4 linked regions of the Homo sapiens genome follow. The protein of the gene in region 1 purifies or fractionates together with the protein of each later gene. This does not show direct contact. Each region holds a gene or a part of one and is shown in the gene's direction. Other genes may lie near its edges.

Region 1 (7,393 bases):
CCTCATTTCCAATTCATGACTTTAACATTGTCTGACAATACTTTAGGTCACAGTCTAGTCACTCTTCTCTCTAGACAACTATTTCATACCTTCTTCTCTGTCCTCAGACTCCCACTGCCTGTTGCCCCATCCTCACACTCATTTGATCATCTTGCTTTCTATTTCACTGAGAACAATGAAGCAATCAGAAGACGATTTCATAAATCTCACTATCACTTCTACCTGTTTACTAGCATATACACCTCACACTTTGACTTCCTGCCAGTTACCACTAGTGAACTTGCCATGCTCCTAAAGCTGACATCTCCTTCTCCACTTAGGTACTAGATTCCACCTCCTCTTGTCTATTCCAGGACATCCCTCCAATAATGCTTCCTTCTGTCTCTTACATCATTAGTTTTATGCTCCCTACTGGATCATTCACATCAACCTGCTTCTTTACACATGCTTCATCTCCCATTTTAAAAACACGTTCTTTGATCCATTTCCCCACCAGCTATCATCCCATTTCTTTGAAACAAAACTTCTCAAAACAGTTGTATATACTCGCTGTTTTCACTTTTTCGCTTCCTGTTTTCTCTTAAACTTATTCCAGCCAAGCTATTATCCCACCACTCCACTGAAAGTAGCTTGACTACTCTTGTCATGATCCCATTTCTTTGTTTCTTTTTGGAGAAAAATTCCTCAAAAGAATTGTCAATATTCAATCTCCATTTCTTTTCTCCCTTTCCCTTTCAAACATATTTCAACCCCCACCACTCCACTGAAAGTGCTCTTTTTGAGTCACCAGTGACTCTTTGTTGTAAAATCCGACGGTCAATTCTCAGACCTCATACTAACTGACATGTGAGCACCCTGTGACACAGCTGAACACCTTCCTTTACACATTTGGCTTCAAGCACATTGCACTCTCTTGGTTTCCTTCCTACCCTGCTGGTCTCTCTTCAGTCTTCCTTGCTGTTTTTCCTCTTTTTCTTGACCTTATACTTTTGGAGTCTTCAGGGCCCAGCTTATCAGGACTCACTATCTTAGTGTTCTCATCCAACCCTTTGACTTTAAATTCCATGCATGCTGATTATCCCAAAATGTGAATAACTATCTCAGACCTCTCCTGAGCTCTAAACTCATTATGCCCACTTGGCATCTCAACTCTGGTGTCCAATAATCATCTCAAACAATATGTTAAAAAAGAGAGACAACTCTGATTTTCCTGCAAAGATCTTCCTCATTATAACCTTCACCATCTCTGCTTCCAGTAACTCCATCCTACCAGTTGCTCATGTCAAAATCATTGGAGTCATCCTTGACTTCTCTCTTTCTCTTACACCCCATGCTGGGAGGTGGGGCCTTTAAGAGGTGATCAGGTTGTTAAGATGGATTTATGTTTTTCTTGCAAGGCTGGATAACTTCTCATGGGAATGGATTAGTTTTTGAGAGAGTGGGTTGCTATAATGCAAGTCAGCCTCTCTTGTCCATTCTTTCCCAGGTGCTTGCTTGCTCTTCTGCTTTTTTGTCATGCTACTTCATAGCACAGCATATTGGACTTCTCAGCATCCAGAATTGTGAGTTAAATAAGCTTTTCTTTATAAATTACCCAGTCTCAGGTATTCAGTTACAGCAACAGAAAATGAACTAAGAGATCCCATAGCCAATTTACCATTAAATCAGGCTGACTCTACCATCATACTATGTCCACCATCCACCTCCATTGCTGCCACCTGGTCTGAGAAACATCTTTCACCTGGGTTACTGCAGTAGCCTCCCAAAAGATCCCCCTAAATCTACCATTGCCACCATACAGATTATTTTTCACCCAGGAGCCAGAGTGATTCACGCAAAACTTAAGTCAGATTTTGTGTCCTCTGCTCAAAATCCTGTAGTAATTTCCCATTTCACTAAGAATAAAAGCCAAATTTCTTACACTATCATACAAGACCCTACTTGATCTAGCCTCCCTCATTCACTGTGCTCCAGTCACGCTGGCCTCCTTGTTATTTCTTGAACATTCCAGACATGCTCCTGTCTTAGTGCCTCTGCTTAGCACTTCTCGTGCTGAAATGCTCTCCTCCAGGATTTCTACTAGCTGACTCCCTCAACTTCTTTGACTCTTTGCCAAAATCTCATATTTTCAATGAGGCTTCCTCTGACCACCCTATTTCATACTACAATCTCCTCCCCACTCCCTACCCCCAGGACTTTCAATCTCCTTGCTCTATTGTTTTTTCCATAGCACTTATAACTTTCTAATGTGCAATATTGGTTTCTTGTTATTATCTTTCTCCCCTGCTAAAATGTAAACCCCAAGAGGGAAGAAATCTTTGGTCTGTTCACCGTTATATCCAGAGGGCCTATAAGAGTACCAGGCACACAGTAGGTACCCAATAAACATTTGTTGAATGTTTAATAAATATTTGTTGAATGTTTAATAAATATAAAAATGGATTATGTGTTCCTTGAAGGTTTGGTAGCAGTCGCCTCAAAATCATTTGAACCTCATGCTATTTTTGTGGAAACATTTTTTTAAGCTACTGATTCCATTTGTTTATTGTCTCTAGGTCTATTTAGATTTTCTATTGCATTTCAGTCCGTGTTGATAAGTTATACATTTCTATGAAGCCATATATTTCATCTAAGTTTGAAAATGTATTGGCATAAAGCTGTCTAACATCCTGTCTTATATTTATTTAAACCATCAATGTGACTATAATTTTCTCTCCAAATATTGCTTATTTTCTCTCTCCTTTTATTATTAATCTTTGGTTAATGCTCTGTATTGTCTTACATAAATTTCTCCTGTTTATTATTACCTTTTCTCTATGTCCTTTGGCCTAATTCTATTGGTCTTTTATATATTTCTCAAATTATTTTTCATGATGAGTGATACAGCACTTGCCAATATTTCCAGTTTCCTCCTTCCAGGCTCAAGAGAAGATTACACCTCCCTGTCCTATTAAAGTTAGACAAGGCCAACTGACTAGCTGTAGCCAATGATTTATGTCACTTCTGACAGAAACATTTAAAAACCTATGCATGGGGAAAGAATTGTCTTTTCAATAAACAGTGCTGGGTCAATTAGATATTCATATGGAAAAAAAGAAATTGTGACCCCACTCATAAAAATCAATTCCAGATGGATGGCATATATAAATTTGAACAATCTTGGTGAGATAAGATTCCTCTTTTTTTCTTCTTTTTAAAAATAGAGATGGGGTCTTGCTGTGTTGCCCAGGCTGGTCTCCAACTCCTAGGCTCAACTGATCCTCCCGTCTCCGCCTCTCAAAGTGCTAGGATTACAGGTGTGAGGCACTGTGCCCAGGTGAGAGGTAAGATTTCTTAAACAGAGCAGAAAAACACTAAGGTAAAGGGGAAAATGACAAATTGGCACATATTAAGATGAAAAACTTTTGTTCTTCAAAAGGTACCATTAAGATGGTGAAAAAGTAGGCCAGGTACGGTTGCTCATGCCTGTAATCCCAGCACTTTGGGAGGCCAAGATGGGCGGATCACCTGAGGCCAGGAGTTCAGACCAGCCTGGCCAACATGGCAAAACCATGTCTTGACTAAAAATACAAAACAAAACAAAACAAAACAAACAAACAAAAAAACCGGGCATGGTGGTGGGCGCCTGTAATCCCGGCTACTTGGGAGGCTGAAGCAGGAGAATCGCTTGAACTTGGGAGGCGGCAGCTTCAGTGAGCTGAGATCATGCCATTGTACTCCAGCCTCGGCGACAGCGAAACTACGAGTCCAAAAGAAAAGTAACCCCACAGAGTGGGAGGAAATATTTGTAATACCTATACTGGAAGAGAAATATTTGTAATACCTATACTGGAAGAATGACTGACTAGTATCTAGCATGTACAAAGGCTTCCTACAAATCCATATGAAAAATAACGTCAGCCCAGTAGAGAAATAGGGAGAAGCCTCGGATACTGCACAAGAGAGAATATCCTAGTGGCCAACAAACACATGAGAAGGTTCTCAGCTCATTAGACTTTGGCTAAATGCAAATTAAAACCACCATGTAATATCATTACTCATCCAGCACGATGGCTAAAATAACAAAGACGTAAAGACACCACCACAGACTCGCGAGACTGAGGAGTGAGTGTCGCGAGACTGAGGGGTGGGTGTCGCGAGACTGAAGAGTGGGCGGCGCAAATGGGCGAGGTGTTTACTCGCCATTTTGTGTGAGGAACGTTGACGCTACCTACCTCTGGCCTGGCCTCTACCCACTGCTGCCCTGGCCGCTACCAACATGAGCCTCCCGGAGAGTCCTCACAGCCCCGCTACTCTCGACTATGCTCTGGAAGACCCGCACCAGGGCCAGAGGTCCCGAGAAAAGAGCAAGGCGACAGAGGTAATGGCAGATATGTTTGATGGCCGCTTGGAGCCAATCGTGTTCCCACCGCCCCGGCTTCCAGAGGAGGGGGTCGCGCCCCAGGATCCCGCAGATGGTGGCCATACTTTCCACATCTTGGTCGATGCGGGTCGCAGTCATGGAGCCATCAAAGCGGGGCAGGAAGTGACTCCACCACCCGCGGAGGGCCTAGAAGCGGCCTCTGCCTCGCTGACAACTGACGGCAGCCTCAAAAATGGCTTTCCGGGTGAAGAGACGCACGGCCTAGGTGGGGAGAAGGCTCTAGAAACCTGTGGGGCAGGGAGGTCGGAGTCTGAAGTGATTGCAGAGGGGAAGGCCGAGGACGTGAAGCCTGAGGAGTGTGCCATGTTCTCAGCCCCAGTGGATGAGAAGCCAGGAGGCGAAGAAATGGACGTGGCGGAAGAAAACAGAGCAATAGATGAGGTAAACAGGGAGGCAGGGCCTGGGCCCGGGCCCGGGCCCCTGAACGTGGGTCTCCACCTGAACCCCCTGGAGTCCATCCAGCTGGAACTGGACTCCGTGAATGCAGAGGCTGACAGGGCGCTCCTGCAGGTGGAGCGCAGGTTTGGGCAGATTCATGAATACTACCTGGAGCAGAGGAATGACATCATTCGCAATATCCCGGGCTTCTGGGTCACTGCTTTCCGCCACCACCCACAGCTGTCTGCCATGATTAGAGGCCAAGATGCCGAGATGTTAAGCTACTTAACCAATTTGGAAGTGAAGGAGCTCAGACACCCTAGGACAGGCTGCAAGTTTAAGTTCTTCTTTCAAAGAAACCCTTACTTCAGAAACAAGCTGATTGTAAAGGTGTATGAGGTCAGATCCTTCGGCCAAGTGGTGTCTTTTTCCACTCTAATCATGTGGCGCCGGGGCCATGGACCCCAGTCCTTCATTCATAGGAACCGACATGTCATCTGCAGCTTCTTCACCTGGTTTTCAGACCACAGCCTTCCAGAGTCCGACAGGATTGCTCAGATTATTAAAGAGGACCTCTGGTCAAATCCACTGCAGTACTACCTGTTGGGTGAAGACGCCCATAGAGCTAGACGTCGCCTGGTAAGGGAGCCAGTGGAGATCCCCAGGCCCTTTGGGTTCCAGTGTGGTTAACCTTTGCCTTTGGAATTACTCCTGCAGAAGGTTGCCTGCCACCACCAGCTGGACCTGAGCTTGGGCAACAGCATTAGGTATGCCCTTTACTTTTTTTGTTCTGACTTTCCTGTACCCTCTGTTTAAACTTTCCGTTCTCTCAACCTGAAGATTGAGACCTTGGTGGCTGTGCTGCTCCCCTTTCACCTGGTCGTCTTGCTATTCTGCATTAACATCACATGCTCCCAGCCGATGGGTCACATCCTTCTAAGCGAAGCGAATGATGCTGTAGGTTACACTGTATTTACCTTTGTTTGGACTCGGTTTGTTCCCAGGACCTCTGGTCTGGCTCCTCCTACTTGGATTTCTAGCTGTGTCTAAGAACCTATTCAGCTCACCCTGCTCTGCATCTGACAGTACAGGTGCATGGCCTGTGGACAATTGCTGGGCATTAATGAAGTCAAGGGAGAACAGCAGGGGGCAAGTTGGTCTGTGTGAATTATGGGACCCCATTACTTTTCCTGAGACTGGTCACCTATTGCTGCCTGCTACTGGCTATTCCCAAGTACTGCTACTTGGGCAGCTCCCTGCTGAGTGAACATATCCCAGACCATTGCCAGCTCCACTCTCTGGTTTCTAATAAACAGGGATCTCCAGAACACTGGTGGTGGACACAGCTTTCCTGTCAGCACACAAAAGACCTGTTCCTCTTCCAAAAGACCTCTCTTTACCACCACCACCCTCATCACTCAGAAACCCTACTGTTTGTTAGACAGGTGGTTGAGGGGACATGTCAGACCCTATCCTCATGGCAAGGTTAATATGTTGGTGTTCTTGACAAGTACCAGGCTTTCTCAGCCACAACCAGTGGATTCATTCAAAATCTAGGTACCTTTATTTGCCTCCCTTCCTGAACCTAATGAAGTGCCAGAGTGAGTGTACACTTTCTTTTCTCTCATCTCTCATAAATCTCTTCTGTCTTCCTTTAAAAAAAACAAAAGTAGTAGTTCAGAAACATCCGCAGAAGCAGGCTTTTTAGTTTCTTGGCTCTCTTTGTCATGTCCAGAGGCAGGCTGTTCTGTAAAATAGACTGCCAGACCTCTTATTGCCCATTCTCCTTTCTTCTCAGCCCCTCACCCCTCTTTAGCAATTCCTAGAGGGTTTAAAGGACTACAGAGCTGTATGGAATGAAAGGTGATTTCTAGTTCAGAGTGGATAGAAGAACTAAAGAGATTGTGATGGGTGCTCTAGGCAGGGAAAACTGAACAAAAAGGCAGAAATGATTCAGGGGAAAATCGGGCCTAGAATTTACACTGGGTTGACTAGTTATGATGGGAAGAGAAGTACTTTTTTTTAGTATGCACGTAGAAGAATAGAAGATGGTTGGAGTGTTAAATATGTTCCCTAGAGAAGGGTTCTTTGAAGAAACACTGCAATTTTGGGTGTTCTCTTTCTTGTTTGCATATGGCCTTACTTATGTGGAAGATTAATACTGTGTTATAATATTTTCTCTTTCTGTTTACTGGGAAGATTCAGCTGTACAGATTTTCTTTTACTTTCAAATAGAAATATTTGGAATAATATCAGTCTTTCTTTTTTGTACATTATGTGGATATGGATATTCATGGCAGTTTTCAGCCTGTTCTTGTTTCTGTTAAAACCGTATCTTTAACATTTTAATTTGAATAACTTGGTCTTATCTGATGCGGAAGACTGGAAACTATTGTGTTCATGGGTAAATAAACTACAAAATATTTATGGCTTTCATTGTCCTTTTTGATAACTTGTCCTGGTAACAACTTAGTAATTGACATGTCTCTTTTCTCAGCCTCCTCAGTAGCTGGGATTATAGGTGTGTGCCACCACGCCTGGCTAATTTTTGTATTTTTAGTAGAGATGGGGTTTCACCATGTTGGCCAGGCT
Region 2 (7,260 bases), on another chromosome or scaffold:
CTTAGGTGAGAGAGATTCTAAGTGTTCCTTGGGGTCAGCCAGGTCTACTTTTGTGTCTTCTAGACAGTGCCACTCACACTAGTGTTGACAGATCAACTTTAAAAAAATTTTAGTCTATGTGGATTGATACTTTTGTAAAATAAAAAGAATTAATAGGAAAAGAAACTGAAAAAGACATACAGAATATAAACTCTAACTTTTTATCATTACATTCAACAGATATAAAATTTGTCCGTTGCCATAAAAGTTTCTAAACTCTTATTCTCAATGTCTGTACTACAGGCAGTGCATTTGACTGCAGACTAATAAACTAGTCCTGGACTGGTACACTTCAAGAGCAGTGACCTAAGAAGAAAGTTTGTTAAGCAAATTAGTAGAATAAACAGGATATTTTTAGAATATTTACCTGAATTTTTTTTTTTTTTTTGAGACAGAGTCTCGCTCTGTCACCCATACTGGAGTGCAGTGGCACGATCTCGGCTCACTGCAAGCTCCGCCTCCCAGGTTCAAGCGATTCTCCTGTCTCAGCCTCCCGAGTAGCTGGGACTACAGGTGCCCACCACCACGCCCGGCTAATTTTTGTGTTTTAGTAGAGATGGGGTTTCATCATATTGGTCAGGCTGGTCTCAAACTCCTGACCTCAGGTGATCCACCCGCCTCAGCCTCCCAAAGTGCTGGGATTACAGGCGTGAGCCACCGTGCCTTCTGGCCCATTTTACCTGATTTAAGAGTAAAAATAATCTCTTCTCATTTAAAATGCTTCCATCTTTTCAGTAAAGTTCCATATTGGGAGGCAGGGATGTAAAAATATACCAATAACTGAAGCCATTATAGTTGTGAGGGGTCCCTAAGTCTAACTCTAAACTGGTGGCAGTACTTGGAAAAACAGGTGCTTTTACTTCCTCTGTTGTTTCTGAGAAACATTACGTATTTTTTAATTTATATTAGGCTATTTTCTCTGTTAATTTCTGGCCAGCCTTTAAATTGATCTGTGTATTTCAGCGCATAATTTTAGGTATATTCTTTCAGGGGAAAGTTCCCTAAGTGGTTGTTGCTGTCATTTGTCTTGCTATGTCATCTAGCCTGAAGTGCAGTGGTGCAATCCTAGTTAACTGTCACCTTGAATTCCTGGGCTCAAGCAGTCTTCCCACCTCAGCCTCCTGAATAACTGGGACTACAGGCATGCACCACCACACCTAGCTGATTTTTTATTTTTCTTAAGCAAACTAAAAAAAAAAAAAGTCTCAAGAGTTGAATATGCTGATACAGTAATTATGTATAACTTAATTGTTCGTATTTCAAATTGGATTTTTGTTCTCTAGCTGCCAGTTATATCTTATTTTATATTTGTAGGTTTTTTTTTTGTTTTTTTTTTTGTGGCTGTCTTCCTCGTTCTGAGATGAATGGCATGTGGTGTTCTCTCAGGCCAGGATTCTCTTTCCCTGCCATCCGAGCCGCTCAGAAGCTGCCTTCCTCAGACAGCCTGTCCGTGGCCATCGTCCCAGGCCCCGCTGCTCACTCGCAGCACTCGGCTGAGCTGCCTTCAGCCTGCCTTGCTGTACAGCGGCCGCTCCCCTCCACTGGCCGCTTTTCTCCTCGCTCCAGTCAGGACTCCCTTTTGTTTTGTATCATGCTTTGTATTACACTTTTCAAGGCTCTTTCATGTATATATTCTCTTATTTCATCCTCCAGACAATCCCATGAGGTTGGTAGAACAGAGATTCTCATCTCCGTTTTAACTGAGGTGAGGCTGGGAGAGTGTCCGCATGGCATGCACCCTCATTCCTTTGCCCTGGGGCTCCCAGAACTACTTGTTACCGCTCAGGTCCAGACTTCTACATGTGCAAGGTTTTGAGTTTGCTCAAAGACGCCTGTAATTTTGAGGTCCTCTTTTCTACTCATTACTTATATTTGTTATTGGAAAGTCCAACATTAGAATACTTGGTTCGATGTCACAGGCCTCTTTGGAAGAAAGAAATCTTCAGAACCTGAGGGGGCGGTCAGTAGAGAACTAGAGCCGGGAGCCCCAGAGGGCCACACAGCGTGAACTGGGTGTCTTGAGGGACAAGTTCTGCTTCAGGGTTAGTTGTCTCCACTGGAGATTTTCAGACAAGAGTGGGAGGGGGTGGGTTTCCCTTATTTCACCAATAAAAGCCCAGCATATTGGGATGCCACAGGACATTTCTCATGAAGAAAAGAATCCTTCTTGAAAGTGGGGAGGGCACATTGAAAAATCACTTTTCACCCAAGTGAGAAATCATTTGCTTTTGACTCTCTCTCCCCATCCCCTTAATGGTCAAACAGACCTGGGTTCCAAATCCAGCCCTGCCACTTACTTAGGTAGGTATGGTGACGTTGGTCAAGTTATTTAACTTCCCTAAACTTGTTTTCTCATCTGTAAAATGGGTAAAATATTGTCCACTTTGGAGCATTATTGTTAGGATTAAGGACAATGCATGTAAAGTCCTTTGATTATGGCCTCGATAAGTAATGTTCCCCGAAACCTAATCCAGAAGAGGGATTTTGACCCAGGAAGGGAGCCACCTGTATAGAGTGGGCTCCAGCAGTGGTTCTTAGACTTGAGCGGGCATCAGAATCACCTGGAAGCCTCTTTACGACTTGCTGGCCCTACTCCCATAGTTTCTGATTCATTTAGTCTGGGGTGAGGTTTGAGATTTTTGCATTTCTAAGTTCCCACATGCTGCTGCTGCTGCTTCTGGTTTGGGGATTACACTTTGAGAACCACTGGGCTGCAGGTAACTGGCCAGTGGGCATGTAGGTGCTGTAGATACATTTGAAAGCCGAGCTTTTTATGTGGTTACTCTGTTAGACACTGCTTGAAATGCATTTTGAAAATACTGAATTTAATATCTCAAGGATATTTCCTGCTGAAGTCCAGGAGTCTTTGTTACATATATTTGAAGGAGAATAAGTTGTGAAAGTAACAGTTGTAAACATATTATAGATAGTCTAATAATATCTAATTGGCTAAGGTATGTGAAAGTGCTTTTATAAAATGTTAGATGATGTTAAGTCACAACTGAAAAAACATTTTAAATCACTTTGTTTTTAAGATGAAACATCATAATGGAGTATAAAGTAGCATAACTTAGATTTCTCATCTCAATGTGCTGTTTACTGTATGTATTTTTCTCTTTCTCCTCCAGGCTGCTGACTTGAGTAAACCAATAGATAAAAGGATATACAAAGGAACACAGCCTACTTGTCATGACTTCAACCACCTAACAGCCACAGCAGAAAGTGTCTCTCTCCTAGTGGGCTTTTCCGCAGGCCAAGTCCAGCTTATAGACCCAATCAAAAAAGAAACTAGCAAACTTTTTAATGAGGAAGTAAGTAGCACCCTGTCTTAGCTGTTAAGAATCCCTTTAAGAGTTGATACATTCTTACCGAGGGTAGTCGGCCTTATTTTGCACTTCAAGCTAAGCCCATTTTTTATTCGCCCAGCCCTCCTACCTAGTATGCCCAAGTTTAAATGTGGTGGATTAATTTGTTGACCTTACCTGTTCTTCCTTGGGGTGACTGTTTTGTGCATTTTTATGGAGCATGCTCAGGTGTCTATAACAGGTGTTTTAAAACTCTTCTATAATGGAGATAGGGACAGTACTGTAACTCGGTATTTATAATTTAAGTAAGAAAATGTGGAATTCCAAAGTTGGTTCACATCACCAGAACATTTCATGCAGATCAAAGAACTTGATGACATTTCCTTAGGCTGCTTAAATTGTAGCCAAAGCTTTTGTATGTATGTTTGACAGTCATTTGGCTAAGGAGTACTTCACTTGCTCTTGAAAATAGTTACTGTAAACTCATCTTTGACATAGTTGGAAATCCTGGCGCTTAAAGTTTGGTCACATGACATAGCTTTTGCCAGTGTTGTAGTATGTACTGGGGTTTCTAGTATCTTCAATTTCATTCTGGAAAGAGCCTGAGATATCTGAGCTGTCTGTTCAGGAACATGTCAGGACTGTTAAATGTGGCATATAGAAATTGCCAAGTAGATTATATTTTTTAAAGCTGTTGGAGCATCTTTCAGCCTCAAGTATTGCTATTTCATATTTAATATTCTTCCTCGTCTGTTTCAGTATGACTTTTCTACCAAGTGGAAAAGATAAGGTAGGCTTGCTGAGTTAGAAGCCCTGGGTTCCAATCTCTACTTGGGACCTTGCCCCTGAGGCGCAAGGGTCAGGCTATGTGGGACCCCCTCCCTTTTGCATTGTTGCATGGTTTTAACATCATTAACTTGGAACAAAAACACATTATAGAGTATGGTTTTTAAGAAATAATTTTGTTTGGGGAAGAAAATTCAAATTGACAAATGGCAGTTAAAATTTGGATTCTTTTGCAGTTATGGTACTTGCTATTCATGCAAATCAGTATCCACCCAGGGTGCTCCTGTTTGACATTGCCAGTGGATTTGATAAGATCTTATGAACCATGCCATCTCTTCTAGTTTCCTCTGAGTTGACTGGAAACAAAACTTGCCATCTGGACTGACAGATTGTAGAGGAAAAGTATTTAATCCCATTTTCCATTAAAAAAAAGTTAAGCAGAAAATATTTTATTTACCTAGATGTTTTTTTAGTATCATCTGCAGAAGTGATTTCTAAGTAGCTGGATGATTATTTTTTTGGTGCTGAGTTTGGGGAGCAGCGCACAAAATTGGCCTCCTCTGCACTGTTAGCAGAAATTGTGAATTTGGAATCATTGTGGGTTTTTATTGTTTAGGTAGGGGAGAGTGTGATTGGAGGGGGCAGGGATTGGAGCCATGTAAGGGCTGTTAGTAAACAAGACCCGGAGGCAGCCCTGGCCGAGGATGGTACAGAATGCCGCTTAGAGAACAAGAAAGTTTTGTGTGTCGTGGCAGGGGGAGGGCAGGGAGTTGGAGACCACACGTCCCCAGAATCTCAGGGCTCTGGGAGCACTCAGGCTGCATTGGCCAGAACTATCCCTGCCCTGGTGACTGGGAGTTGCAGGCTGGAAGGCAGCTCCTCATTCTTCATGATTTAAGCATGAGTTATCTCATACTCACTTTACATTTTATTTGAGAAATTGCTATTTAGAATGCTAAGACTGTGTGTGGTTTAATGCCAGCTTTGCATTTACAGCTTGAGGCTGAAATCGATTGCCCTTCATAGTAAGGAGATCCTCTGGCCATGTGGATACATTTTTATCAGATTTTGGTCAGAATGTCTAAGAGCAAGGGTCACCGGAGGTTTGTTCCTTAGAGAGTGCCAGGAATGGTGGTGAAGTAGTCATCGTGTCGTGCTTTGCTGTGGTGTGACATTTACAGGTTTCAAGGCACTTTTACCTATGGCCTCTACAGGGAGGGTGGGGAGTTGTTCCCATTTTACAGATGAGGAAATAGTCAAAGAGCACATAAGTGAATTGTCCAGATCAGGTAGCAAGTTGATGATAGAGTTGGAACCAGAAATTAATTCCAGAAACTCATTGGTTACAGGACCCACCATGCATGGTTGCCAGATGAGCTCTTGCCCTTCCGGGAGCTCACAGTTTAGTAAGAATGGACAGAGAGTACTGGGCACGTGTCAGCACAGCGATATGAACAAAATACCAAGGGCTAGCTGCCGCAGGAATTCTTTAGTATGCATTTTAAAGTTTTTTAAAATGTTAAGTTCACTGGGGGAGTTCCAAGAAATGCTTTTAGAAAGTGATGTTTGATGTGGGTCTTAAAGGGTACATAGTCATTAGAGGAGGGTAAGGAAGGCCTTCAAAGCTGGAGGAACAACTAGGCATGTGAAAGAACATCCAGTAACAGCTTGGCCACATCACAGTGTGGGACTTGGAGTGTCAGAGTTCGAAGCTGGAAAGATAAATTGGAACCAGCTTGTCTTATAAAAGCCTTTTCATGTCACGTGAAGCAATTTGGAACTGACACTGGAAGATGTGGGGGAACCTTTGGCCTTTTAATGAAGGGAGTGACAGGATCAAATGTGTTTTTTTAGAACTCTTGTCAGCACTTGTGGAAGGTGGATTGGAATGAAGAAAGACAGAATGAAGGTAGCAAGACCAGTGAGGAGGCTCTAGTAACTGTCCAGGTGAGAGCTGAGGGCTTGAACTAGAGTTGCGGCCATTGTTTCATTCATTCAGGACCTTGACTACCTACCACATGCCCAGCACTGGGTCTGCAGCAGTGGGCAAAACCTGCCCTCCTGTGACCCCTCTCAGGAGGGAAGAGAGGTATAATAGCACCACCCCCGAAACACTGGTGACCACAGATGGTGACACTTTGTGATGTAAGAGGCAAGAGAGCAGGCCCAAGAAAGGGAGAGAATCACAGAGGTCTACTTTATTTATTTATTTATTTATTTATTTATTTATTTATTTATTTATTTATGAGACAGAGTCTTACTCTGTCACCCAGGCTGGAGTGCAGTGGCGCAATCTTGGCTCACTGCAACCTTCACCTCCCAGGTTCAAGCTATTCTTGTGCCTCACCCACCCAAGTACCTGGGATTATAGGCCACCTGACTAATTTTTGTATTTTTAGTAGAGACGGGATTTCACCATGTTGGCCAGGCTAGTCTGGAACTCCTGGCTTCAAGTGATCCACCCACCTCAGCTTCCCAAAGTGCTGGAATTACAGGCGTGAGCCACCACGCCTGGCCAACACAGAGGTCTACTTTAAACTGGGAGGCAGAGGACATCTCTCGGACGAAGTGCTATGTTTTAAGCTGTGCCTCATGTGAGAAGAAGGCCAACCAGGTAAGGAACTGGAGATGGAGCTTTCCTGCAAAAGGAATAGCACATGAGGGCCCTTGAGCCCAAGGAAACTGAAAGAAGGACGGTTTACCTGGGGAAGGTGGCATGAAGTAAGGGCATGAGATTGGAGGGCCACATCACCTACGGCCTGATCCAGATTTGTTTCTTAGCCTGAAGTACGGGATTCCTTAGAAGGGAGCAGGTGCACAAGGCAGGCAGATTGGTGTTTTTGAAAGGTACCCTGGCTGCTTTTTGGAGACTGAATTGGAAAGGTGTATTAATAAATCAGGTTTCTGGGTGTCTCTTGCTGTGTTGGGTGAGACTGGGAAAGGAGCAGTTGTCAGGGAATGGAGGGGAAGATCAGAGGTTCTGGTCTGTACTTGCTAAGTTCGAGAGACCTGTAGATAGTGGGATGTATGGATCTGGAGCACAAAACTAGGGGTTACAATTTGGCAGTTGTCAGCATAGAAATAATAATCACATCCTTGAGATTAGATGAAAGGTTCTTTGGAGAGATGA
Region 3 (7,457 bases), on another chromosome or scaffold:
AATTTTTGTATTTTTTAGTAGAGACGGGTTTCACCACGTTGGTCAAGCTGGTCTTGAAGTCCTGACCTCAAATGATCCATCCGCCTCGGCCTCCCAAAGTGCGGCCTCCCACCGTGCCTGGCCAGCCCTTATTTTTAGGTGCTAACATTTTTTCATGATTATAAAAACAATATGTGCTCAGTAGAACAGTTTAGAAAATACAAGGCTGGGAGTGGTGGCTCACGCCTTTAGCAATCCCAGCACTTTGGGAGGCCGAGGTGGGTGGATCACTTGAGGTCAGGAGTTCGAGACCAACCATAGCCAACATGGTGGAACCCATCTGTACTAAAAAAAATACAAAAATTAGCTGGTGTGGTGGCACACGCCTGTAGTTCCAGCTACTCGGGAGGCTGAGGCATAAGGATCGCTTGAACCTGAGAAGCAGAGGTTGCAGTGAGCCGAGACCATGCCACTGCACTCCAGCCTGGGAGACAGAGTGAGACTCTGTCTCAAAAAAAAAAAAAAAAAGTTTAGTAAATACAAAATGCAGAAAATTATTTTTATTTATATATTTATTTATTTTTTTGAGACAGAGTCTTGCTCTATCGCCCAGGCTGGGGACAGTGGCACAATCTCGGCTTACTGCAACCTCCAGCCTTACCCTCTTGAGTAGCTGGGACCACAGGCGTGCACCACTACGCCTGGATAATTTTTTGTGCTTTTGGTAGAGATGGGGTTTCACCGTGTTGCCCAGTCTGGTCTCCAACTCCTGAGCTCAAGCAATCCACCCACCTCGACCTCCCAAAGTGCTGGGATCACAGGCGTGAGCCTCTGCGCTCGGCCTAAATTTTTTTAAATAAAAATTTTATTTACGGTCAGGCGCGGTGGCTCACGCCTGTGATCCCAGCACTTTGGGAGGCCGAGGCGGGTGGATCACGAGGTCAGGAGATTGAGACCATCCTGGCTAACACGGTGAAACCCCATCTCTACTAAAAATACAAAAAATTAGCCGGGCGTGGTGGCGGGCGCCTGTAGTCCCAGCTACTCGGGAGCCTGAGGCAGGAGAATGACGTGAACCCGGGAGGTGGAGCTTGCGGTGAGCTGAGATTGGGCCACTGCACTCCAGCCTGGGCGACAGAGCAAGACTCCGTCTCAAAAACAAAACAAAACAAAACAAAACATATATATATATATATTTGAGAGATGAAGTCTCGCTCTGTGGCCCAGGCTGGAGTGCAGTGGCTCAGTCTCAGCTTACCACAACCTCCGCCTCCCGGGTTCAAGCGATTCTCCTGACTCCCAAAGTGCTGGGATTACAGGAGTTACTGCACCAGGCCCACTTTATTTTTTAGAGCAGTTTTGGCATCACTGCAAAATTGAGCTGAAAGTATCAAGAGTCCTTTGTACCCCTCTCCACACACAGACACAGCCTCCCTATCAACATCCTGTCCAGAGTGGTAAATTTCTTGCAGTGATGAATATACAGTGACACATTATCAACCAAAGGCCATAGTTTACATAAGGGCTTCCTTTTGGTGTTGTACATTCTATGGGTTTTAATTTTTTTAAATAAAGATTTTATTTTTTAAGAGCAATTTTAGTTTCACAGCAAAACTGACAGGTAGGTCCGGAGAGTCCCATATACCTCCTTCCCCCATGCAGTCACGGCTCCCCTGACTACCAACATCCCTATCAGAGTGGTAAATTTGTTAAAATCGATGAACCTACATTAACACATCATTACTAACCAAAGCCTGCGGTTTACATTAGAGTTAGTTCACCCTTGGTGTTTACATTCTGTATCTTTGAACAAATGTATACTTACAAGTATCCACTATTACAGTATCATGAGAGTATTTTCGCTACCGTAAAAATCCTCTGTGCTGTCTGCCATTAGTTGTTTTTTGTTTTTGTTTTTTTAATGTGGGGTTTTGTTTTGTTTGGTTTGAGACAGAGCCCTCGTCTGTCGCCCCGGGCTGGAGTGCAGTGGCGCCATCTGAGCTCGCTGCAATTTCTGCCTCCCAGCTCAAGTGATCCTCACACCTCCGCCTCCTGAGTAGCTGGGACTACAGGTGCACACCAGCACACCTTGCTAATTTTTTGTATTTTTTGTAGAGAAGGGGTTTCACCATGTTGCTCAGGCTGGTTTGGAACTCCCGGGCTCAAAGGATCCAACCGTCTTGGCATCCCAAAGTGCCAGGATTACAGGCGTGAGTCACTGCGCCAGACTTAAAATGTGGTTGTTAATGACTACGTCTGTTGCATAACCAAAATCCCCTATTATTGGGCATTTAGATTGTTTCCTTATCTGTTTTAAAGAGGAGAAAACTAAGGCCCTTCACTTGACAAGTCACTTGTCCAAAGTCACCTGGCTAAAAAGTAGGCAGAACTGATATTAGAAATCTGGTCTGACTCCAGAACCCATTCTTAGGCCACCACACTGCGTCTAGAATTAATAACACACCACTTAACCCCGTTAGATCAGCTCCCCTCAACTTGAAAGATAGTGACCAGGCACCTCCACAAGCAGAGCAGCCAAGGATTCAAGTATATGTTGAGGAAGGCAGGCAATACAGAAAAAACTAGGTGGCTCAACTGAGATGGAACAAGCAGAAAATGCAAAGGGGAGGTCCAGGAATAGAAATAAACAGGAGGTAGGAGATGGGTACACAGAATGCTGGTTAAGACAAAGAGAAAGCTGGATTTGGGAAATCTAAAAGTAAGAAACTCTGGCTTTTATCTCTGTATGTAGGAGGGAGCAAAGATAACCTCAAGGCCATGTGGGGAGCTAGCAAGGATAAGGTTTCTGGGAAAAGGAATGAGAAAAGGGAGGGTAAACTCCCGAGGACTACAAGAGCAGGAGAGGCTTTGTGTGGCCAGGAGGAGAGGCCAGAAGTCAACGAGGCAGGCTAGAATAGGCACTGGATACCAAACCTTCCTGTTCCTAAGGAGACTTCCTTCCAGCCTGAGCCTCCTCTAGTAGTTCGGCTACTAAATGCTCTCAGCCCTTAGGGGCTGTGGTGGGAAGTGGGGAGCGGGGATTGTAAAGTGCTCTAACTATTAATATAATGCGGACTGAGAATGGATGCTGGCACAATTTTTTAAAGGCAGTAGGCTTAACGCTAGTGCCACCTACCCCTACTCCACTTCTCTAGCCTAACCTCAGCCACACCCACATGCTAAGGACCATCCAGGAGGGGGGAGCGTGTAGCGCGCCTGCGTGCTCGTGCGCACGAGAAGCAGAGAGGCAGAGAAGGAGACAAAAAGAGATAGGGGGAGAGAGAGAGAGAGAGCGAGAAGAGAGAGACAGACAAGGACAGAAAGGGGGCTGGAGGAGAAAGAGAGAGAGAGATACAGAGAGAGAGAGAGAGAGAGAGAGAGAGAGAGAGAGAGAGAGAGAGAGAGAGAGAGAGAGAGAGATCAGCCCTGGTGAGGGAGGAAAACTCCATAGATAATACAGGGAGCTCCTGCAGGAAGACTCAGGGAGAAGATCCCAGAACTTACCCTAAGACTGTTGAGAGAGTAGGGGGTAGCTTTGCAGGACCTGGTTTGGGGGTCATCAAGCAGTAACGGTTACTGCACAGGCGTTGCCACTGAGCCAGAGCCATTTAACCCGACCTGTGTGGCTGGGGATCAAGCTTCAGATACCCCATAACTCTGACTCTCAGACTGTTTTGGGGGCCCCGTGGCTGCAGACAAGGGAAGGAGGGGCACGTGAGGGCTGGGTCCCTGCCTCCCCCCGTCCTCCGCTGTCACTCACTACCCCAACAGTCGCCCAGGGGGCGGGACCCGGAGAGGTGGGGATGGGGGAGGGTAATCTTGGCAGGCGCCTGCTGCATGGCGTAGGTAGGGACTATTGAGGGGGGCGGACGCCGAGGGGGTGAACACGAGTGGGAAGCTAAGAGAGACACGGGGAGGGGGAGGGGACCGGGAACCATTTGAATGAGAGGAGGGGATCACGGGTAGAGTGGGCTCCAGGAGGTAGGGCGAGCAGGGTGTGACGGGGGCCAGACTCTTGAGCCAGGTAAGGGGAGCAGGTGCGTAGATCTGTGTTTTTTGTGGGTGAGCGCACTCGGCCCTTGGGTGGAAAGGGGACGCCGCCTTTCCCGGGGGGCCGGCTTCAAAGCTCCAGAGGCTATCTTTTCCTTCTCAACTAACGGGGCCCCGGGCGGGGGCTCAGGCGCCGTCTCTAGTGGCTGCATTCCACTCCGCAATTTCCAGGCGGCCACTGGACTGGGAGTCTCGCGCCGGGGGCCGGCGCTGTCTCGCGAGCCCCCTCCTCGAGCCAGCCAATGGGGTTGGTTGCTGGCACCGCCCGCCCGCCTGGTGCAGAGCGCTGGGCGCTGCGAGCGGCGCTGCCATTTAAAGGGGCCGCGACCCCTGTCCCGGCTGCTAGGGAGGGAGGTAGAGAAGGAGCGCGGGGCCGTCGCTGTCTGCAGTTCTAGGCTTGTAGCCTTTGCACTAACCCTGCCGCAGGTAGGGGTCGGGCCTGCTCAAGCCGAACCGAACCTGCAAGCGGGATCTTGCAGTAGCCGGGAGGCGGTGGTGGGGGGGTCTAAGGAGAGATCGTAGCTCCAAAATGTCTTCCTGTAAATGCCTGAGGTTGGGGGTGGGCAACAGGAGAAGGGAGGACTGGAGGAGCAATGGGAAAGGGGGACGGGGCTGAGGAAGTGGGCGACCTGAAAGGTAACTGGGGGGAAGGGGTTGCGAAGGGCAGTTTGTGGGGGCGGGGGAAGGGCCGAGGGAGGACCTAGCAACGCGGGGAGGGGGGGTGGGGCCAGACAGGGTGGGTAAAGACTGGGGAGCTGGGGGGCTCCTGCAGAGTGGGGAGGGAATAGAAACTGAGATCGCGGGGGCGGGAAAGGCTCCTGGTGGCGACGGCCTTAGGAGACTCTAAGGGGGCGTTCAGCCTGAGTTGCGGGGGGTAAAAGGTAAGGGGGGAAGGGAATGGGAGTTGCAGTCGAGTAGGGGGGTGGGCGGGTAGAACGACCGACTGCCTGGCCAGTGTGGGCACGGGGCCAGGGCGGGGAACGCCTCTCCCCACTGGGGGCGCTGTATTGGGGGGAGTGGTCATTAGGACTAAAGCCTTCGGAAATGCTTGTAGATTGTGGTGGTGGGGGCTGCTCATGAGAAATCCAAGTGGATGATGGGGTGTGTCTCAGAGCCTATATAAGAAGGAATTCAGGCTAAGACCACCTCTACTGCCCCCTCTTCTACTCCTAATCTGCAGTACATATCCAGCCATACTCATGGACCCCAGTGATTTCCCCAGTCCATTTGACCCATTGACCCTGCCAGAGAAGCCCCTGGCTGGAGACCTACCAGTAGACATGGAATTTGGAGAGGATCTACTGGAATCCCAGACTGCCCCAACTCGAGGATGGGCCCCCCCTGGCCCTTCTCCATCCTCGGGAGCCCTGGACCTGCTTGATACCCCTGCTGGCCTGGAAAAAGACCCTGGAGTCCTGGATGGAGCCACTGAGTTGCTGGGGCTGGGGGGGCTGCTCTATAAAGCCCCCTCTCCCCCGGAGGTGGACCACGGTCCTGAGGGAACCCTGGCATGGGATGCAGGAGATCAGACCCTAGAGCCTGGACCAGGGGGCCAGACCCCTGAGGTGGTACCACCTGATCCAGGGGCTGGGGCAAATTCCTGTTCACCTGAGGGGCTACTAGAGCCTTTGGCTCCAGATTCTCCAATAACACTGCAGTCCCCACATATTGAAGAGGAGGAGACCACCTCCATAGCTACTGCAAGAAGGGGCTCCCCTGGGCAGGAGGAGGAGCTTCCCCAAGGGCAGCCACAGAGCCCAAATGCCCCGCCTAGCCCTTCAGTGGGAGAGACTCTGGGGGATGGAATCAACAGTTCTCAGACCAAACCTGGGGGCTCTAGCCCCCCTGCACATCCTTCCTTGCCAGGTAGGTTGCCTAATTATCTGGAGAATCAGGGCTGGGAGAGGGTGGTGGTAAGGAGGGGTGGCTATGTGCTTTGGGAAGTAGTGGGGAGGAGGAGGGTGGAGAGATAAGTGTAGGGATGTGTGTGGGGAAGGACTTGGGGTTTACGAGGGAGGAGTGGGGTGGTGTGTAGAGGAAGATTAAGGAAAGTAGGGGTGGGCACAGGCTGTGGGGGAGGAATGGGGTAAGGTTTCAGGGAGCGTAGGTTGGGAGGAGTGAATTTGGTGGGAAGGGTTCCCTTTTTCCTACCCCAGTGGGCTTTTGGTGCCAGAGTCCTTCCTTCAGGATTTGGGGGAGTACACCAGGCTTCTTGGTTCTAAGACCTTTACAGCTTTTTGGTTCTAGATGGGAGTGGGATTTCTGGGTTTGATGAATGGTAACTAGGTTCTGGAGCCCCTAACAGCATAAGGATTTCAGCAGAGCGATAGAAATGCAGGGTCTAGGATTGCGTCTCTGATAGGGGAGGGACAACCTTGACTTGAGAGGCTCTAGTGTCTCCCCTCTTCTGCCTAGTGGTGTGCCTCTATCAGGCTGTGACGAGGGTCTTAGGGCTTATATAACCACCTGAATCCAGGGGAAGCTACCCATACACTGATGCTTCCTTTTCCTTTTGCTACCTTTGGGTGGTTGTGTGTGTTTTTCATTGGTAAAATATAAATTCTTAATGAAAGGTATATTACCTGTGTTTCCTTAACCCCCAAGGATTGGGACAGAAAGCTGGTGGGAAGGATAGATTTTTTTTTTTTCATGGAATAGCTGCACGTGCACCCCCCCACCCTTAGTACAGAGCCTGAGGTAACCCTGAGAGGGGCCCCAAGAAGCCACAGGCACTCGAGTTTTCCCTTTCAGTTTTGAGTAAGTTCTTCCCCAGGAATGGAGGCGGGGGTTGGGCCGGGGAGAGGGTGGTGAGGGCAGGCTCAACATTTAGGCTGCCTTCTGCTTCCTTTGCAGGAGATGGCCTGACTGCGAAGGCGAGTGAGAAGCCGCCTGAACGGGTGAGGGGGAGGGGATTGGAAGGAGTCTGGTTCCCCCTTAGCTCTGGGAAGGACAGACCCTTCATTTTCCCTCCCAGATGTTGTTCTGTAGAGAGTGTGTGTAAGGAGAGTTAGGAGGAGGGAGGGAGCACTAGTGTCTACTGCTTGTTGGGGAGAAAGTCCAACCTCCTTTTCTTCCCTCCTCCTAAGGGCTGGGCCAAGGGTCCCCACTCTCCCTTCCCCCTCCCATCTTCTATCCCCCCCCAAACCCTGTACTAGTGTTAGCCTGGCCAGGGTGTCAGTTTTCCTCCCCTCCCATCTTTCCGAGGTACAGAAGAGAAGCGAGCGCGTTAGGAGAGCAGAACCTCCAAAACCTGAGGTTGTAGATTCCACTGAGAGCAGTAAGTAGGATTTGAGGAAGTGTGACCTGGGAGTTCTGGGTGTGGAAAAGGTCCGAAAGTGGCATGCGGCAGGGCATGGATCTTCTAGCTCCTGCCGTCCTGCTCCATGAAGCGCATGAAGTGCCTGTCTCTGCTATGGGTTGGCATGGGA
Region 4 (7,260 bases), on another chromosome or scaffold:
AGGTCAATCCCCCACCCACCGCCCCCACTGTCCCTCCCAGTCTTCCTTCCCAGAGGAGAAGGCTGGGTATGAGGAAACTGCTGTCTTTTCACTGGATCAGACGTAAATATTAACTGGACCTCTCTTTAGATTCTTTGCTCAATAATGAATTGTTTTCAGGTAGGTGTCTTACAGGTCCCTTCTCACTGCTTAGCTCCTCTGTGGGCCTCTTACTGACCCTTCCCGCTCCTAACTTTGGTCCCAGCTGGTTTGAGTAGTTGTAGTAAGAGCAAATGGTGATTGCATTTTTTTCTTAAGCACATCGTTTAACATATTTTGAACAGGCTGATATGTGTTCAGAAAGGATATTAGAAGGTACCATTTTTCTGGGTAACAGGAAAAAACGAAGATCTATCATTGAAAGTGGATTTGTTTCCTCCACCAGATAAGAAAGGACCCAGCAGAGCAGAAATCAAATTTGTAGCAGATACTTCGTGTGATTGAGAACTAAACATCCCCTCTTTTCCCCATACTTCTTGTGCCAGTTTTAGTTATAGGAAACTTGGAAAATATCTTCATTCCTCCACTTACCCACCCACTTGCTGAAGTTTTATTGTTCACTGGAAGTTTAGTACTAGTTTCTATTTGTTTTAATTTTTCTTCCATGTGAATTCCTGCCATGGTAATTCTTGATGAACTTGCTCAGGGCAAGGCAGCTTGGCCACACAGCAGTGTGTGGTTCAGAGATAGTAAAGCTTGTTTGGCTGGTGTGTTGTAATTTTCATAATGCACTAGCTGCTACCAAGCATGAGGAAATGTCTTCTGTTGATAATCCTCTGATTTTTGTCCAGACCAATGGATTTAACTTCCTATATATTTTTATGGCCCTGCAAATGGAAAGTTTTTGTTTTTGGGTTTTTTAAGTTTCCTATTTGAAGAGCTTGAGAAATTTTCTAAAAAGGAAGCATTAGTTAGAAGAAACCAAATGTGACATACCAATGCAAGTTGCTTCAGATCATCTAATCTTATTTCATTTGTTAATAATGCTGTAAGATGTACCTCTGAGAAAATGCTGTGTATCAAATGATTACGAGTTTTGTTCCGATAAATGGCCATCTGTTGAGGACCTGCTATGTTGGTGTTGGCACAGACTATACTCAAGTGCTTAATAAATGAATGAGGTGAGTCCCTGTCCCCAAGGGGCTCAGCTGTTCCTTATCTTGTGGGTGTTAACATTGGTAAAGATGAAACAATTTCAATACAGTGTTATATCAGCACAGATAGAAGTTGAATAAACTCCCAGCAGCTGTACAGTGGAAAGACCGATTAACACAACAGGACATTTCAAAAATACATTCTCGTTTGACCAAAGTTGTATACACATTCTGCTTCTGGCTTTTATTTTATATGAGGACATGATTGTAGTCAATGTGAGTTAGAATTGAAATCTGCACCATTGGGTGTCTCTCCAGTTAAGCATGAATCTAATGGTGCTTTTGGGCAAACTGTTGTATTTCCGGAGACCTTAGTTTTTCTCATCTTGTAAAACTGATTTTCTGTTTTTGGTCATGAAAAACTTCATGGTAGAATTCCTTAGATAAAGGCTTTATGAAAATCTGCACCTCTTAATTGGTTAGCAACCACTTCATTACCTAACTACCTTGTTTAAAACTGTATTGAACTTATGACATGTTAGCATTTTAGCGTCTGTAGAACAGCCTCAGGATAATTTTTGACATCAGTTTGAGTGCCAGATTTTAGTTCTTTTAAATAAATGAGGTAGGCTGGGCATGGTGGCTCACTGGTAATACCAGTACTTTGGGAGGCCGAGGCAAGAGGATTCTTTGAGCCCAGGAATTCAAGATCAGCCTAGGCAACATAGTGAGACCCAATCTCTACCAAAAAGAAACAAACAAAATCATGTAAATAAAAATGTATCATATAAATAAATGAAGTTATCTGGAAATAAAGGGAAAGTAAACATTACAATTTTGAAACAAAACTAGAGTATTTTTATAGTTTTATCTTGATAAGTCAACTACTTACCTAAGGCAAGTATTTTGAGAATGGTTGGAAACAACTTTTTAATTATTAAAAAATATGTCCATCTTGTGATTTGGGGGAACAGATATCTTGCCTTTTCCTCTGTTACTGTTATTCATGCTTTCCATTCTCAAAGATAGTTGGCAATTATAAGTTTAGTTAATATATCAGCTAGGTGTAAAGTCATATGAGGGTCTACTCTGATAGTTGCTGGGATTAGAAAATACAGTCTGAGGTGAGGTGGATTAATGTTTAAAGAAAAGAAATTCTGTTTTTCTGGCCCCACTGGTCTCATATGCAGAGGTTTATATTAGGTCGGGACCTGACAATTAGTTCTGCGGATTTTTCTGTTTTTCTTGGACTCCTCAGAGAAAACAAAGTTGAATGCTGGTATTTAGTTAGAATGAAAGATTATGATACCTTTTCTGTATAACAACTTTATGTGCTTCAGTTCACTCATACCATAAAATCTGTTTATTTATTCTTCACTAAGTGGAATTTTGGTATGTTTGGGTTATAATTGAAAGGCATTTTCAATTTTGATTCTCTTAGCAATTAAGAGAAATTTCTCTAGCTCAGATGTCTTTTTTTTCCCCCTCCTGGTCTTTCTAGTTAGTGTGAATAGATTGGGGTTCCATGATGGTATTAAATTCTGTGGTATCATCAGAAAGGTATTTGGTAACCACCTATCTCTATCTCTAGCTTACCCATGAAGCCACCCAAAGCTAACTAACTGGAAGAGATGTAAAAGATGGTGTCTTTTAGTCTAGTTAACTTTTCTGGTCTAATTATTTTAATGCAGCTTCTTATAACAAACCTTCAGTTGTGGTGGAACCAAATGCTGATCTAAGGGTTTGAAAGGCCTTGGTGGTCTTTAAGAGAAAAGGCCACCCAAAAATCAATCAGCAAAATCTTTTTTTTTTTTTTTTTTTTTTTTGAGATAGAGTTTTGTTCTTGTTGCCCAGGCTGGAGTGCGATGGCTTCACTGCAACCTCTGCCTCCTGGATTCAAGTGATTCTCCTGCCTCAATCTCCTGAGCAGCTGGGATTACAGTTGCCTGCTACCATGCCTGGCTAATTTTGCATTTTTAGTAGAGATAGGGTTTCACCATGTTGGCCAGGCTGGTCTCAAACTCCTGACCTCAGGTGATCCGCCCGCCTCAGCCTCTCAAAGTGCTAGGATTATAGGTGTGAACCACTGTGCCCTGCCACGAAAACATTCTTGAGACGAACTCTGTGTTAGCGAACAACCCTAACAGTAAAGGGTTTTTGGAATATTTCTCTTCTGGGACTATGGCTTGAAGTTTGAGGGATGCTGTAAGTGCTGTACATGGAAGTTTACCCCAATTCTCAGAATGATTCTTTGCAATGGATAGTTTTAAGATCATGGTGATGGGACTCTGTGGTCGCCAAAGCTTCACTTTACCCTCATAGGGCCAACCTTCCTTTTCTTCCTCAAGTTCCAATGTCACTTTTAGAACCCTCAGATACTTTTTAAATTAGCTCAGACTTTGCCTTTTTTTCTGAGTGATGGTGAATTTTAGACATACAGAAATGTGGAATAATAGAGTGAATACTCGTGTACTCCCCACCCAGTGAAGAAATAAAATACTATATATACATTTAAAACCACCTATGAGTCCTTCCTGATCTCATTGCCTCTCCCCACAGAGTGACCACTATTCTGCATTTAGTGTTTATTGTATATTTTTATATTTTTACTAGATTTGTATGCATTCATAAACTAGATATAGTGTATTTTTTCATGTTTTAAACATGCTTTATAATATTAAACATTCCTCTCAGTTTGCTTTTATTGTTTAAATTGTGATTTTGCTATTTATCCATTGAGAGACACATAATCCTAGTTTATTTTAACTGCTGTATAACATTCCATTATATAAATATGCTATGACACATTCATTTTAATGTTGTAAGCAGGTTTACAAATTTGTGAGTGTGCTGTTTTAATGCAATGAACAGTTGTGAACTCATCTCCCTGTGTATAGTATACACAGTTGACAGTTGACAGTTTCTCTGTGGTGTAAACCTGGAAGGGAATTGCTGGGTCAAAGGAATTTGATCGTCTTCTTTAATAAGTTGCCTGATTGCTCTCCAAAGAAGTTATGCCAATTTGCATTCCAACCAAGCAGCGTTTGGGGGTTCCAGTTGCTTCACATGTTTGCAGATATTTGATATTGCTAGACTTGATGTTTTGCCAGTCTGATGGGTGTGACATTGTGCCTTTGTGGTTTAAAATTTGCACTTTTCCTGTTTGCTAGGGGAGGTTGAACATCTTTTCATGTGTTTGTTATGCTGGTTTGTTTTCAACTCAGGGGCCTGAGAACAGTTTTCCAGGTCTTGAAAGTCAGGATTGTAGTTTTGGTTTTGTCTGAAAACAGGGACAATGAAGAAGGGACAGTGAAGAGGAAAATCAAGGAGACCAAAGCAAAAGTCATGAAAGGTAGGGATGGATTGGAAGATGCAGGTGAAAAAAATGATGACAAGATAATCACTGTGGAGGGGTGAAAACTAGTAACAAAAAGATAATAGAGTAGCACTGAGAAGATACCTTGAATTTTGAGAGTAAATTTGGGAGACCTGCCTGTGCCAGCAAGGCCTTGTTCAAGCCACATTTGCTTTGTTTAATTGACATTGGCTTTAGTGAAAATCGTGTCTGGGGCCTGTTCTGGTGAGAACAGCAGCAAAGCTGGACTTGCAGAGTTTTCCTGTTTACCCAGTTGCTTTTTCAAGTTCTTTTAGAAAGGCATTGTGAAACGATGGTCATCTTCCTAAAATACATTTCTCTGTCCTTCAGGTTAGGTACACAGTGCAGGAAAATTTTTATCTGGATCTGCTTGAATATATACTGGTGGAATTACTGTCTTAAATATTTAGAAAGTATTCTCTACACTTCATTTTAATTTTCAGAGTATGATGAGTATTACCTCATTAAACAAAGAAATGTATGGTTTTAGGTTCTTTGGTGTACCAAAGAATGGTTCCCACATGTGCATTCTCTTATTAAAAATTTAGACTCTGGGGTTCAACACCCAGAGAGTTTGATTAAGTAGGTCTTAGTTGGGGCTCTGGAATCTGCCTTTTAAATTAGTGTTCCCTCCTCCTTCTACTCCCTCCACATTCTGTTATAGGTGAGCTGAGGACCATGCTTGGAGAAATATTGCTTCCCTTGGGTAATAACCTCAGCCTCTTAAAAAATATTGCTTAAGAAATTACCTGCCATGTGAAAGTTTTTAAAAAAATGAATGTAAAATTATTTAAGCTAGTAACTTAACTTTTTCTGTTCTTTTTTCTCTTTCTTTCTTTTTTTTTTTTTTTTTTGAGATGGAGTCTCACTCTGTTGCCAGGCTGGAGTACAGTGGCATGATCTCAGCTCACTGCAACCTCTGCTTCCAGGTTCAAGCGATTCTCCTGCCTCAGCCTCCTGAGTAGGGTACTACAGGCACGTGCCCCCTTGCCCAGCTAATTTTGTATTTTTAGTAGAGACAGGGTTTCACCATGTTGCCTGGGATGGTCTTGATCTCTTGACCTCGTGATCCGCCCACCTTGGCCTCCCAAAGTACTGGGATTACAGGCGTGAGCCACTGCACCCGGCCAACTTAACTTTTTCTTGGTATTAAATAGCCAGGTTTTGTATTAGTTTATATATTCAGAACAGAGATTTTCAGCACTGGCTTTATATCATATCACCTGTGAAGCTTTTAAAAGAAATTTTAAAAATAATAATTAAATCACAAAACATTAACATACAAAAAAGCATGAAAAAATAATGTTATATATGTTTACCTACCCTTCAGATTTAACAGATATTAAAATGTAGCCATATTTGGTTACTTTTATTTTTAGACATATTACTGTAAAAACAGCACTAACTCTTTTTAGACTCTTTTACCTTAAAAACAGACACTAACTCAACCCAATCTCTTTCCTTTCTCTTCCTCCCAGAGCAAACCATTTTCCTGAAGTTGATATGGTGTTTACCAAACATGTCTTATACTTTACTTTGTATTTATGAATTCATAAGCAATGGATTGCAACGTTTGTGTGTGGATAAAATCGTGTAGCTTTTTGCAACTGTCTTTCTTTACTCAACAAGTATATTTGAGATTATGTCAACACATAGAGGTCGAGTTTATTCATTCTGACTGCTCTGTAACAGGATTCTTTGACTTAACCATGGTTTACTTATTCATTCTCTTATTTAGGGGCAGTTTGGTAGTTTCTACAATATTCTCTCTGGAAACAGTGTTGCAGCGAATGTTCTTGCTTCTGTCTTCTTTGCTCAGGTGTCTTCATTTCTTTAGGGTATAATCCTGGAAGTCAATATGCTGCTTTTAGGATGCGCCCATCTGCAGCTTTGCTAGGTGTGTCAAATTGCTCTCCAAAGTGGTTCCACCAATTGGAGCTTTATTGACATGCAGTTTCTAGGGTCCCAGTCTCCAGCGTTTCTGACAGTATGTAGATATAGGTAGTCTGGGGTGAATTTTAGGCACCTGCGTGTGTATGTGTGTGTGTGTATTTTAAGTGCCACAGTTGATTCCGATGTGAGCATCCAAGGTTGATAAACCACCATGTTAGACTGACAACTCTATGAGGGCAGGAACTGTATTTATTTGTATTATTCAGTGTTGATTTCCCAGCTGTCAGCACAGTGCCTAGCACATATGTGGTTGGTGCTCAATAAATAAATATTGATAAATGAATGAAGGGATGTAATTTGGTAGAATGGAAGAATTGCCTTGGAGTAAAGCAGTATGCCTCCAATTTTATCATGCATAGGCATTAGCTGGAGGTCTAGTTGAAATGTCAATTTGGATTCAGCACGTCTGGGGCAGGGCGGAGATTTTGCACTTCTAACAAACTCTCTGGTGGTACAGATAATGCTGGTTTCGGGACCATTTTTAGAGCAGCAAGGCTTTGGGAAAAACAAAACAACTTCTATTTTCCATATAGTTGTAAAGTGGAGGAGTTTGGAATTCAGAATCCTGTTTGGTAAATCTCAGATCCTATTTATCTTTTTACAACAAAGGTAGTCAATGAAATACCTTCTTTAAAGCTTTTTGGGGAGCATCAGAAGAGATCCTGCCCATGGAAGCACTGTGTGAGCTATGATGCCTTCATGCTTGTTAGTTTTCATAATTATTCTCACTCTTTTAGTTCATCATTATTTTCCTTCTGTTTGCTCAAAGTGCAAAGCTGTTGGTATTTCAGGATCCAG

Evidence for each region.
Region 2: the proteins of TSPYL6 (region 1) and WDR20 purify together in Homo sapiens (co-immunoprecipitation; 3 studies listed by BioGRID and IntAct, with this or other methods). This does not show direct contact.
Region 3: the proteins of TSPYL6 (region 1) and ZMYM3 purify together in Homo sapiens (affinity purification with mass spectrometry; 2 studies listed by BioGRID and IntAct, with this or other methods). This does not show direct contact.
Region 4: the proteins of TSPYL6 (region 1) and USP46 purify together in Homo sapiens (co-immunoprecipitation; 3 studies listed by BioGRID and IntAct, with this or other methods). This does not show direct contact.

The regions. Positions count from the first base shown.
Region 1 is NC_000002.12:54,253,017-54,260,409, reverse strand, and holds TSPYL6 (testis-specific Y-encoded-like protein 6), read left to right. Parts: upstream 1-4,180; 5' UTR 4,181-4,258; coding exon 4,259-5,491; 3' UTR 5,492-7,232; downstream 7,233-7,393.
Region 2 is NC_000014.9:102,191,771-102,199,030, forward strand, and holds part of WDR20 (WD repeat-containing protein 20), read left to right. Parts: intron 1-1,692; coding exon of another isoform or gene 1,693-1,744; intron 1,745-3,167; coding exon 3,168-3,350; intron 3,351-3,356; exon of another isoform or gene 3,357-4,103; coding exon of another isoform or gene 4,104-4,134; intron 4,135-5,984; coding exon of another isoform or gene 5,985-6,077; intron 6,078-7,260. UniProt on the Homo sapiens protein: Regulator of deubiquitinating complexes. Activates deubiquitinating activity of complexes containing USP12. Anchors at the base of the ubiquitin-contacting loop of USP12 and remotely modulates the catalytic center of the enzyme.
Region 3 is NC_000023.11:71,251,027-71,258,483, reverse strand, and holds the start of ZMYM3 (zinc finger MYM-type protein 3), read left to right. Parts: upstream 1-4,343; 5' UTR 4,344-4,455; intron 4,456-4,747; exon of another isoform or gene 4,748-4,910; intron 4,911-5,209; 5' UTR 5,210-5,228; coding exon 5,229-5,895; intron 5,896-6,882; coding exon 6,883-6,926; intron 6,927-7,239; coding exon 7,240-7,306; intron 7,307-7,457. UniProt on the Homo sapiens protein: Plays a role in the regulation of cell morphology and cytoskeletal organization.
Region 4 is NC_000004.12:52,649,195-52,656,454, reverse strand, and holds part of USP46 (ubiquitin carboxyl-terminal hydrolase 46), read left to right. Parts: exon of another isoform or gene 1-144; coding exon of another isoform or gene 145-159; intron 160-7,260. UniProt on the Homo sapiens protein: Deubiquitinating enzyme that plays a role in behavior, possibly by regulating GABA action. May act by mediating the deubiquitination of GAD1/GAD67.